3 linked regions of the Homo sapiens genome follow. The protein of the gene in region 1 purifies or fractionates together with the protein of each later gene. This does not show direct contact. Each region holds a gene or a part of one and is shown on either strand. Other genes may lie near its edges. The genes, in order: SERINC3, KDELR2 and HACD3.

The links.
Region 2: the proteins of SERINC3 (region 1) and KDELR2 purify together in Homo sapiens (affinity purification with mass spectrometry; one large-scale study listed by BioGRID and IntAct). This does not show direct contact.
Region 3: the proteins of SERINC3 (region 1) and HACD3 purify together in Homo sapiens (affinity purification with mass spectrometry; one large-scale study listed by BioGRID and IntAct). This does not show direct contact.

What each region holds. Positions count from the first base shown.
Region 1 is NC_000020.11:44,519,135-44,523,569, reverse strand, and holds the start of SERINC3 (serine incorporator 3), read left to right. Parts: upstream 1-1,499; 5' UTR 1,500-1,618; coding exon 1,619-1,657; intron 1,658-4,435.
Region 2 is NC_000007.14:6,460,526-6,463,959, forward strand, and holds the end of KDELR2 (ER lumen protein-retaining receptor 2), read right to left. Parts: intron 2,651-3,434; coding exon 2,616-2,650; coding exon of another isoform or gene 2,441-2,615; 3' UTR 564-2,440; downstream 1-563. UniProt on the Homo sapiens protein: Membrane receptor that binds the K-D-E-L sequence motif in the C-terminal part of endoplasmic reticulum resident proteins and maintains their localization in that compartment by participating to their vesicle-mediated recycling back from the Golgi.
Region 3 is NC_000015.10:65,575,461-65,578,999, reverse strand, and holds the end of HACD3 (very-long-chain (3R)-3-hydroxyacyl-CoA dehydratase 3), read right to left. Parts: intron 2,698-3,539; coding exon 2,621-2,697; 3' UTR 651-2,620; downstream 1-650. UniProt on the Homo sapiens protein: Catalyzes the third of the four reactions of the long-chain fatty acids elongation cycle. This endoplasmic reticulum-bound enzymatic process, allows the addition of two carbons to the chain of long- and very long-chain fatty acids/VLCFAs per cycle.

The sequences.
Region 1 (4,435 bases):
ACACCTTATATTTTCTCTGATATGTGTTCTCCCTTTCTGAACAAGCTAAATAAACCTAATTCTTTTTGACTACAGGTATGTTTCTGGTAGAATTCGATCTGTAAAATTTATCACAGTCAGCTCTCTTAAGTCCAGACCAGCAATACTCAGACAGGAAGAAGCAAGAATGTTAAGGACTACCTGGAAAGTTCAGTGGTCCTGAAGCAACTTGACTTGAGCTGGTATTTGTGTATGTGTGGTGAGGAGAGGGATCTGGGAAAAGAGAGGTAGGAATTATTAAATGTGAGTAGTTCTCTTTCTTCTTTCATCAGCCCTTTTCATGGCCTTGGGCAAACTTTGAGCCTCATTCCATTTCTGTAAAAGATGAATTTGGAATACATTTTCAAGGAATCCAGGAAATAACATCCCCAAATATGCCACACTGGTATGATGATTGCTTGGGGAACAGCACATGGAGAGAGGGGCTTTTCATGAATTTCCCTTATCAGACTAAAGGCTGACAATCCAGAAGGAATTCAATTATGAATCCCCTTCCAGAGAGTTTTATCTATCAGGGAAGATTAACACACCACAGGAGAAGATATTGAAGTGTGACACCTTGTTGTCCGGACATCATCATTGTTTGCCACATTCCACCTAAACTATTATATGTGTAAGTAAAAAATGTTTTCATTTTCTTCTTTAAGTGAACTCTCAAATTTGACATGTATTTTGAAAGGAATATTTACATCACTGCTTAAATGGGAAATCAGCATTGCTCGGAAGAAATGAAAAGGTTATTGCTAACACACACCTCAAAACAAAACAATATTTTAAAACTGCAGGCATGGTTGCCTGTTTGAGAGATCTGGAAAATGAAGGCTTTACTCTGTTAGAAAGGGAGATAAATACTAGAAAAATGTTAAATACCATACTGGCCTCAAACAACTAGCCTGTTGGTTTGAAATGGGACGTTCTCACTCTGCTGTTTAATATCGCTTAATGTCCTTCATGCACCCTTAGAGCCATTCATTTTTCCCAAATGGGGTGCATCCCACATTTTAGGATACGATTTCCATCGTTTCTAGGTTAATTTGGACTCATCCTTTAGTTCGCAGATTAAAAAATAAATCCTTCAGAGAAGCCTTCCAAGACTACTGCCCAGCTAAATTACTTTCCCCTTACAATAGGAGGCACTAAATACACCTTTATTGAAAGCCTATTCCCCCATACTACTTCATCGTATTCATTACATTGGGGCACGGTGCATTTATGTTGTCAGATCTCCTATTAACTAGAGAATAAATTCTGAGCGTACTGTGCCTCTCTGTACACTTCTGTAACTTCCAGATCTTTGCACAATGAATACAAATGATGTAAGGAATGACACCTTCACAGTTCCTGCAACCCCAGGATGGTTTAGCCCCACCTTCCCCCTCAGCCAATGACAGGCGCCCCCCTCTGCCGCTCCGGTCGCGGACGGTGGGCGGGGCCACGCCGTGACGCATCCGTGCGTCTGTGGAAGGCTGCGTTTCCGGCCTGAGAAACCGTCATGTTTCTGGGGAGTCACCTCAGCTGGCAGTTACCACCGTGTTAGAAAGCAGCCTCAGGACCGGCCACCTCCATCACTGGCGTCACCATGGGGGCTGTGCTGGGTGTCTTCTCCCTCGCCAGCTGGGTGAGTTCGGGGTCCCGAGTCCTCGCCGGACCTGCGGTTTGCGGGGAAAGGCCTCGAGACCAGAGCTGCACGGGCCTTGGCTCCAGAGGCTCTCGGGATGTCAGCAGGCCCTGGGCTACAGAGGGTCTCCGGGGCCCCAGACGCAAATCCGCGATACCCTCAGGTCCAGCTTAGGCGGCTCGCCCTCCGGGTTCCTCGGGGAACGGAAGAGGCTAGGCCGCCATTGTTTACAATTCGGATGGCTCCGCCCTGCGAGGCTTCCTGACTAGGTTCCTCTGGAGCTGGAGAGGGACCAAGGAATGACAGCTCCCAGCGAGGGGCTCCGGTTCCTCCCGAAGCACCTCTTAAGGTGCCATCATTTAGTTCTAGGTGGCTCAAGTAATATTTTTATCCCCTAGCACGGGATTTGCCAAAACTACAGAGTGTGTGGCAAAGCTGGGGTTTTAGCGGAGGCTTGTCTGCAGTTCAGGTGCAAGGGAAAGAAGCCCTTGTGGATTGTTATTCAAAATTGGAAACCAGGGCCTGAATATTTTGGGACTGCTGTAAGTCATTTATCCGAGGATAATCACCCCAGCATTCCTCTCTTCGAGAACGATTGTGACAGTGAAGTGAAGGTTTAATCACCTTGTAAACTGTAAACATTTTAAAGAGAAAATTATAGGGCCTATAAAAGAATATGCTGAGTTCCCTCATTTACCCACTTCAGAGGAGCGTGATTCCTTGATTCCTCATTCTCCAGCTGATTTAATTGACCAAGTGTGTAGAAAAAGCACACTCAGTTTCTCCTGCTGTACTCACAACACACTTTTGACACCTGATGTGTGGTGTGTGGGGATTTTCCCCCAAACATCAGGCAAACAGTCAGCTCTGCAGGGGATGCCAACTTGGTGCCCTACAAGTCAATTCCGAAGCTCTCTACTTGGAGATAGCATCAAATCACACAAGTGGAGGGCTCAGTCTCACAAGACTGTGCCCACTTTCTGTGCCAATGGCAAGCCTCAGGTTGTTTTACCTGTGCTTCTGACCGGCCACCTATAAATCAAAGTTCCCGTGACCTCCCTCCTTGGCTTTGATTAATTTGGTCACAAAACTCAAGGAAACATGTTTACTGGTTTATTATAAAAGTATTTTATTTTGTGTATTTATGTATTTTTAATTTTAGATTCAGAGGGTACATATGCAGTTTTGTTACATGGGTATATTGCCTTATCGTGAGGTTTGGGTTTCTAATGATTCCGTTGCCCAAACAGTGAACACAGTATCCAACAGGTAGTTTTTCAACCCCTATCCCCCCACCGTCCTTCCCCACTCTTGGACTCTCCAGTGTTTATTGTTGCCATCTTCGTGTCTGTGTTCCCAGTGTTTAGCTCCCACTTGTAAGCGAGAATATGCTGTATTTGGTTTTCTGTTTCTGTATTAATTCACTTGGGATAGTGGCCTCCAGCTGCATCTTTGTTGCTGCAAAGGACATGATTTTCTTCTTTTTTTATGGCTACTATTAATATATTTTTAAAGATACAGATGAAGTGATATGTAAGACAAGGTGTAGAGGGAACGGGTCTGGAGCTTCCATGCTCTGTCTGGGGCAGTGGCGCCATCTCGGCTCTCTTCAACCTCCAAGGGATTCTCATGTTTCAGCCTCCCGGAGTAGCTGGGATTATAGTGTATGCCACCACGCCCAGCTAATTTTTGTATTTTCAATAAAGACGGGATTTCGCCATGTTGGCCAGGCTGGTCTCGAACTCCTGGGGTGTGAGCCACCATGCCCAGCCAAAAGTTCTTCTGAACTTTGTCCTTCTGAGCTTTTATGCAGGCTTCATTATGTAGTCAGCATTCATTAAATCATTGGCTTTTGGTTACTGACCTAACCTTCAGCCCCTCCTTGGAGGGTCAGGGGTGAGACTGAAAAGTCCCAACCTCCTACTATGACCCTCACCCATCATGAAGCCACCTAGGGGCTGCCAGTCACCAGTCATCTCATTAGCATACAAAAAGACGCTGGTTATTCCAAGGATTTTAGAAATTGTATGCCAGGAAATGGGAACCAAACATACATATATTTGACAGTATTACACCAAGGATTCTGTTTCAGCTCTTTCTACTATTTTTCTTTTTTTTTTTTGGAGGGGGACAGAGTTTTGCTCTGTCACCCAGGCTGGAGTGCAGTGGCTCAGTCATAGCTCACTGCAGCCTTGAACTCCTGGATTCAAGTGATCCTCCCACCTCAGCCTTCCCAGTACAGGTGTGTGACACCATGCCTGGCTTCATTCCACTATTTCTTAGGAACAGAATGTATTTTAAGGTTGTTGGTCCTAAATCAAAAGAGTGTTCCATTTTTAAGGGCTTTCTTGAGAGCAGTGGTTTTCTAATTATTCTGACCTTGACCTAAAGAAAGATTGTACATAGTTGATCTGTGATCTGATGCACCCATATAGAGACAAAGTTTTATGAAATAATCGTTTACTGTACAATTTTTCTTTTATCTTCTATCACATTAGAAAATCCTGGTGAGTTGAAGGCCAGGCATGGTGGCTCACGCCAGGATGGTCTCAATCTCCTGACCTCGTGATCCGCCGGCCTCCCAGAGTGCTTGGATTACAGGTGTGAGCCACCGCGTCTTGCCCGGCTTTTACTCTTAAGTTATATGGGAATCTATTACAGAGTTTGAAAAAAGGAGTGATGTGATCTGGGCCTGTGTTTTAACGAGGTGGTTTCTGGTTGCTGTGTGGAGAATAGATGGTAGAAAAGTAAAGGTAAAGCAGTGTAGGCTGGGAAGAA
Region 2 (3,434 bases), on another chromosome or scaffold:
ACAGAAATCCCTGGCAGTTTACCTATGTAACTGGAGGCAACGAGGCTCACGTGAAGTCCAGGGCCAGGGAGTACAAGTGAGGGAACCAAGCCTCAACACATGCCTGGGCCCAAAGCATGTGCTTTTCTTACTTAAGGGTTCCCATAAATCACTATGATCTCCATTAAAACCACTTCTCCACCTGCTCTTCTCTTAGCCAGGGCATAAGGCAACAGGGAAACTTCTTCAAAGTTTCTTTGTGATTGAACTGGACAGGGGAATAGATTGGTCTCTCTCTGTTAAGGAGCCAATGGATAGAAGCCTTTATTATTTTTAAGTTTTCATTTTTACTAGTTTTTTAAATGAGATGTGGTCTTGCTAGGTTGCCCAGGCTGGTCTGAAACTCCTGGCCTTAAGTGATCCTCCTGCCTTAGCCTCCCAAAGTACTGTGATTATAGGCATGAGCCACCAGGCCTGGCTGGAAAGCAGCTTTTCCTATATCCATTACTGGGCAAATATCTGAACTTTGCTTTATTTCTCATGATGCTTACATTGAAAAACACACAAACACCTCAATAAAAATATTAATTACCTGGTAACCTTTATTCGGGAAGTGAAAGTAACTGTGAAACAGTGCTTCATAAGGCGTGGCATACAAGGCCTTGGTTTCCAACGCCGGCGAGGATGAGGCCCAGTCCCACACTCCCTCGCAGGCACCCTTGCTAAGATGTCCTCCTGGGTGACCAAAACGGTGGTAACATAGCCAAGGTTACTTTTACTTGGGTAGGATGACTGCAGAAGGAATGGCTACACAGAGCTTCCAGACCTTTCCATGCGTTGTGCTCTCCAGAGGATGCGCCAGGTGTATCAGATTTGCATGCACAAAGACAGGTGTGCGCCCCACCCACCCTGGGCTGGGCAGCAAGAGGTCTGCTCACCTACTGCACCAGACTTCCTAGCCTCCTTCCACACTCCGAATCTTCAAGCAGGATGAAAAGAGACCACAGAAACTGAAGCAAGACTAGGATGCTGCAAAGAAAGATGCTCTGATACACAAAAGCCAAAACATAAGACAAGGAGGGAAGAGTAAAATGAGGGAGACAGACAGGAAGTTAAACTATGCAGTTACACTGCCGATTTAGAAAGATGTTAAGACACACACTAGATACAAATGAAACCCATCCTGCTCCCTTCCTCCAGAAGACGTTGTAATGCAGAAAGCCAAAATACTACATCCTTCTTGTAGTCAGCACTGTTAGTATTCAACACTTTAATATTTATGGTGTATCACATAAAAAACAAAGTCATATACTTTTGCATTAATCAAAAAATAGCAAATCCATATAATGGCAAAATCAGGAAAAAAATTCTAGTATTTCCACAAAATACATAATGTCTTACAGATGATTATGTGAACTTTAAATGTCTGCAGCCCTACAGAGCTTTTGTTGCCAATTGAAAAACAAAAAAATCCCAACACAGGATGTTCAAAAAGCCTAATTCATAAAAAGACAATTTATTCCATGTTTAATATAGTGTTTTTTAGGATGGTAACATAAGTCATGCAACAGCTCTGTAAAACAAAACAAAACAAGAAACTACGATGTCGGCTGCGGGTTAAATAAAAAGAAAACCACACATACAAAAAAGAATGTAAGGAATGGTTAGTGGTGCTGCCAATTAAAAAAAAAACTGTAATTAAATCATCTTACCACCCAAAAGTGATATGGAAAACTGTTTGAATCTGAGCATGGACATGGTTGTAGTCATCTTTTGGAATTATAAGTGAAAGTGATAGGTAACTCCTTGTGTTCCATTTCTCAGAGTAGATTGCTATATCCAAATGATCATGAACACCCCTCCCATCCCACACTCAGATGGAAAGCAGCCAGAACCCCTGCCACTGGATTCTTCAGCACCCTTGGGACAGTCTCCAACTGACACTTCCCAGCAGGGGAGGAGGGCAGGCACCTTTGGTGACTCTTCAGTGAGACTCCATCGACATTCAGAATCTTAAAATGTTGGTAATGAAAACCATGGACCTCCAAGTCATCCTTACCAACCTTAAATGTAGTGTTGTGACATCCAACGAAGGACTTCCACGTCACGTGGGAATAAATTTGAACAGATACATCCAATTGAACATAGTGTCTCAGATTTCAAACAAATACAGCTCATCTTTTGCCAAAAAATAAATATAGTGGAATGCAAGTTTGAGGGATGGAAGAATATATAATCTATCAACTGTCAAGGAGTACAATTTCATTGCAGACACAAAGACTTAAGAGTTTCAAAGAATTTTTTAAAATAAAAAAAAAATTTGCACTTATTCCTCACAAAATCTTCACTTTTGGAACTATCCCAATTGAAGCTACACACTGAATTTATTAATACAGCATTAAGTTTCTTTGTGTAAAAAAATCTTTGTACACAGTAATAAAAAAAGATAAGGCAAGATGCATTAAACAGAAACCTTCTGGCTCTTTTCCTCTGCGTTTTTACAGAGCCACTGATGACTATCTGCAACAAAAGAGTTAAGTTTCTGATTTTCCGTATCAAGCATCTTATGCCTTTGCTGTGGTAAGAATTCTGTCCGAGCACCCTGAAGGACAGATGCTGGTGATGGTCTTTGGCACTTATGCTGGCAAACTGAGCTTCTTTCCCTTGAGTACTAGAATTTCAAAGAGAAGAAAAGAAAACAAAAGGTTACTGATATTGACAAACTTAGCTTCCTTCTTCCCATTCCTAGAAGTCTCCCACACACAAGATTCTACATAGTAAGGTATAGGAAATAAGCAATTGTATTTTAAAAATACAAATTTGATTGAAAGTGCCACTAAATTCATAGTGGCTTTTTGTTATTATGACTTTCACCCTAATCAATATATAGTAAAATATAGCTTATGTAGGGAGGCCTATGAAATTCTGGGTACTATAACATAAAGGCCGGATGCAGTGGCTCATGCCTGTAATCCCAGTACTTTGGCAGGCCAGGGTGGGAGGATCCCTTGAAGCTAGGAGTTCAAGACCAGCCTGGGCAAAAAAAGTGAGAGCGACCCCATCTCTATAAAAAAAAAATTTTAAAAAGAACCAGGTGTGGTGGCATGCACCTGTAGTCCCAGCTACTCAGGAGGATGAGCAGGGAGGATCACTTGAGCCCAGGAGTTTGGGACTGCAGTGAGGAAGGATCACACCACTGCATTCTTGCAGCCTGAGTAACAGAGTGAGACCCTGTCTCTTTAAAAAGATAAAAAAAAAAAAAAACACAAAGGATGGCAGGGTGAGGTAGCTCACGCCTATACTTCCGGCACTGTGGGAGGCAGAGGTGGGCGGATCTCCTGAGGTCAGGAGTTCAAGACCAGCCTAGCCAACATGGTGAAACACCATCTCTAATAAAAATACAAAAATTAGGCTGGGCACAGTGGCTCATGCTTGTAATCCCAGCACTTGGGGAG
Region 3 (3,539 bases), on another chromosome or scaffold:
AATGAGCAACTCAGACTGTCTGGAGCTTGCTGAGTACAAACACACCACCACTAAGTTTCAGAACTTTCCTTAGAACTTGGGCAAAATGTGGTGGTAACTCTTAAGTGCTTTTGGTATCTCTTGAGATTCTAACTTTTAAAGAGCAACCATTAATGTGTAAAATGATTCCTATTATTCAAGGTTTTTTTTTAATGAAAATAAAATATTTGATTTTCTAGAAAATGGTTTCACTATGAAACTAAAGGTCGTTTGCTTTTGGTCTGTCTTATCACTTTAATATAATTTCAACTTTCTAAGTGGCATAGATTCATAAATCATGAGGTTTCCTTATTTCTGACACTGATTAGGCCTCATTGCCTAAGCAAGGTTCTGGCTAGGTAATCCTGACAGATCACCGATCCGATTCCAAAGTTAATTATGGTTCCAATTTATCAGCTAGCTTTATGACTTTGGGCAACTTCTCAAGGCTTTGTCTGCATCATCAGTGTTTTTCATTTGCACCACCTTCCATGTAACTCTCAGGCTTCAACCAGAGCAACTGTTTTTGGTTTAACATGCTGAACTGCTACATAATATTTTGCCTGAACAAAGGTCTTTATCACTAACAGAGAACCATTAGACTAAATTATCTTTAAGCACAGTCATTAGAATTTTGATTGTAAATGTTTTAATAGAAATACACAATCTTTCACTTTCTCAGACAGCAATAAAGGGGTTTGTAACAATCACTAAGAATACAGAATTTTGCCACGAGGATGCAGCATAATCTACTGCAAAGCTGATCTGCCCAATTACACGTAGTCAGCTGCAAGAATATCAGAAATCAATACAAACAAGTATTGACAGGTGTTACAGACATGCAAAATATCCTTCAATGCAACGAATTTTTAAGAAATCAGCTAGCCTATATTAATCAGATGTTTTAGGTCAAACCAAGTTTCCATCTTGGGCTCAGTGAAATAGTATTAACTCATTGAGTCTCCTTTCCCCCAGGAATGTTGGGAATGGCAGAACAGAAAGAGCTATCACTCCTTAAATTCTTTTATGCAAGTGTTACTCCAACACTTATTTTACTTGGTTTACTTGGAATGTATGAGAGGAAACTGATGTTTTTTACAATGGCCAACTGTATGTCTAAATTTTCAGTTCTCCTTTTTGTGAGTTTCCTGCCAGAAATCCTTGTTAAAGGATCAGCGGGTGTTCACCCCGAAGTTCTTGCTGTTTTCAGTGTCCTACTGCAGACAGGTTTAAAAAGCCAACTGAACAGCAGCAGAATGAAGTATTTTTGAGGTCTATTCAAAAATGTACAGTCCCACCACTCACTAGAACAAGTACACAAGTAAATGGACTCAGCCAGTGCAGGAGATGGAAGGCTGCCATTTTTTATGTTTGTGCACAGCCTTACAGTTTGGAGGTGTGTTTGGCCTACTCTAATATTTCTAGTTTGTCAAAGGCTGTACACTGTTACTGCCAGTTTGACCTACATACTGTGTTCCCTTTGGATCCCTGCTACCATTTGGACCTCGTGTGTGTGTGTGTGTATGTGTGTTTGTGTGTGTGTGGTTTGGTTTGGTTTGAGACAGGGTCTTGCACTGTCACCCCAGCTGCAGTGCAGTGGCACAATCTCGGCTCACTGCAGCCTTGACCTCCTGAGCTCAGGATCCTCCCATCTCAGCTTCTTGAGTAGCTGGGACAACAGGTGTGTGCCATCACACCCAGCTAATTTTTTTATTTTTTGTAGAGATAGGGGTCTCACTACGTTGCCCAAGCTGGTCTTGAACTCCTGGCTTCAAGCGATGCTCCCACCTAGGTGTCCCAAAGTGCTGGGATTACAGGTGTGAGCCACATTCCTGGCTGAGTTTGGAACTTGTAATCTCATTGTTTTCTAAATAATGTTTCATTTTTCTTCAGTGTTGAAAATAGTTGATTTACTTAAGAATGGCATGATCATGATGTTCCAAGATTCTGATTAGTTTCTTTCAAAGCATTCTGCGCCTCTTCAATGCCCACACTGCTGAGCACTATAATAATAGATGTTGTTAGGCCAAAGGATGTCAGATGTAAAGTATGTTCTCTAGCCCCACTCTTAGAAATGTTTTATCAATGACTCAGTCCACTTGATTTTCAAAAAGTCAATGCCATCCCATTAAACAAGTAACCCCTTAGGTACAGAATAATTAATTCCTGCCTGAGTCACTTTAACAGCCTTCTATAGAGTGACATAGTCTTGCTTTTTTTCACAAGCAATAGCTGAAAAGAACAAATCTCAACTGTAAGAACTGTCAGTACATTGTAGGGATAAAGCACTTTTTGAAAAAAAAATCTCTGGCATGTATTAGACAGACTGAACATGAGATAGGGTTGGGGTGGGCTGAGCCTTTTGGTGTCATTAACTGAATACACAAGAATGAACCTCTCATCAGATATCAGGAATCCATGTCATGCAAGTACTACAATAAGATAACAGTAAATTCAGGAATGTTACTGGGGAAAAGGAAGATAGCCTCACTGAGAATTTAATCATTTAACATTAAAAAAACTTTTACATTGGTTCAAGAAGGTAAAACTGTAAGAATCAGATTAGGCTCAAACTGGCAAGAAGCCATCTAAATCTTTCTTTTTAGTGGATCTTTTTCTTTTTTTGTCCATAGCGCCGTCTGCGCTGTTTATAAAGGTGACGAAAATTTATGTATAAACCTGAAAAAGAAAAGAGGTCAATTAGAAATTAGAGTCTTTGTCTATTTATAACCAGAAGCTCTTGTGGCAGGGACAGTATCTAGCTGTCGTCATATTCCACAGCAAAAAGCTTATTGCAGCGGCTCAGGAAGGAGTACAATTTAGAACAAATTAACAATACAATAGACACAAAGCAATTTTTCCCCAGTGGGTTTATTTATTTATTTATTGCGACAGGGTCTCATTCTGTCACCCAGGCTGGAGTGCAGTGGCACAATCTCAGCTCACTGCAACCTCCGCCTCCTGGGTTCAAGCAATCCTCCTGCCTCAGCCTCCTGAGTAGCTGGGATTACAGGCGTCCACCACCATGCCTGGCTAATTTTTTGTATTTTTAGTAGAGGTGGGGTTTCACCATGTTGGTCAGGCTAGTCTCAAACTCCTGACCTCAAATGATCTGCCCAGCTTGGCCTCCCAAAGTACTGGGATTACAGGCGTAAGCCACCACACCCAGCCTCCCAGTGAGTTTAAAACATTTTTTTCTCTTATAAAATTTTCAAACACGCAAAAGATTAAATCATTATACAGGGAACATCTAGATTTACTGCTTTTTACTATATTGGCTATATCACATCCCTATTCATCTATCCCTCCAGCCATCTCATTTTTTATGCACTTCAGTGTTAAGTTGCAGATATCAATACACCTCACCCCCCTAATTCTTCAGGTAGGTATAGTTCAATATTCTTTCTTTCTTTTACAGTAAAATTTACAATGAAATGCACAAATCTAAAGTGCAGAAACAACCTAATTTTTAATTCAAGCCTACTCAAGAACATGGCCAGGCGTGGTGGCTCACGACCGTA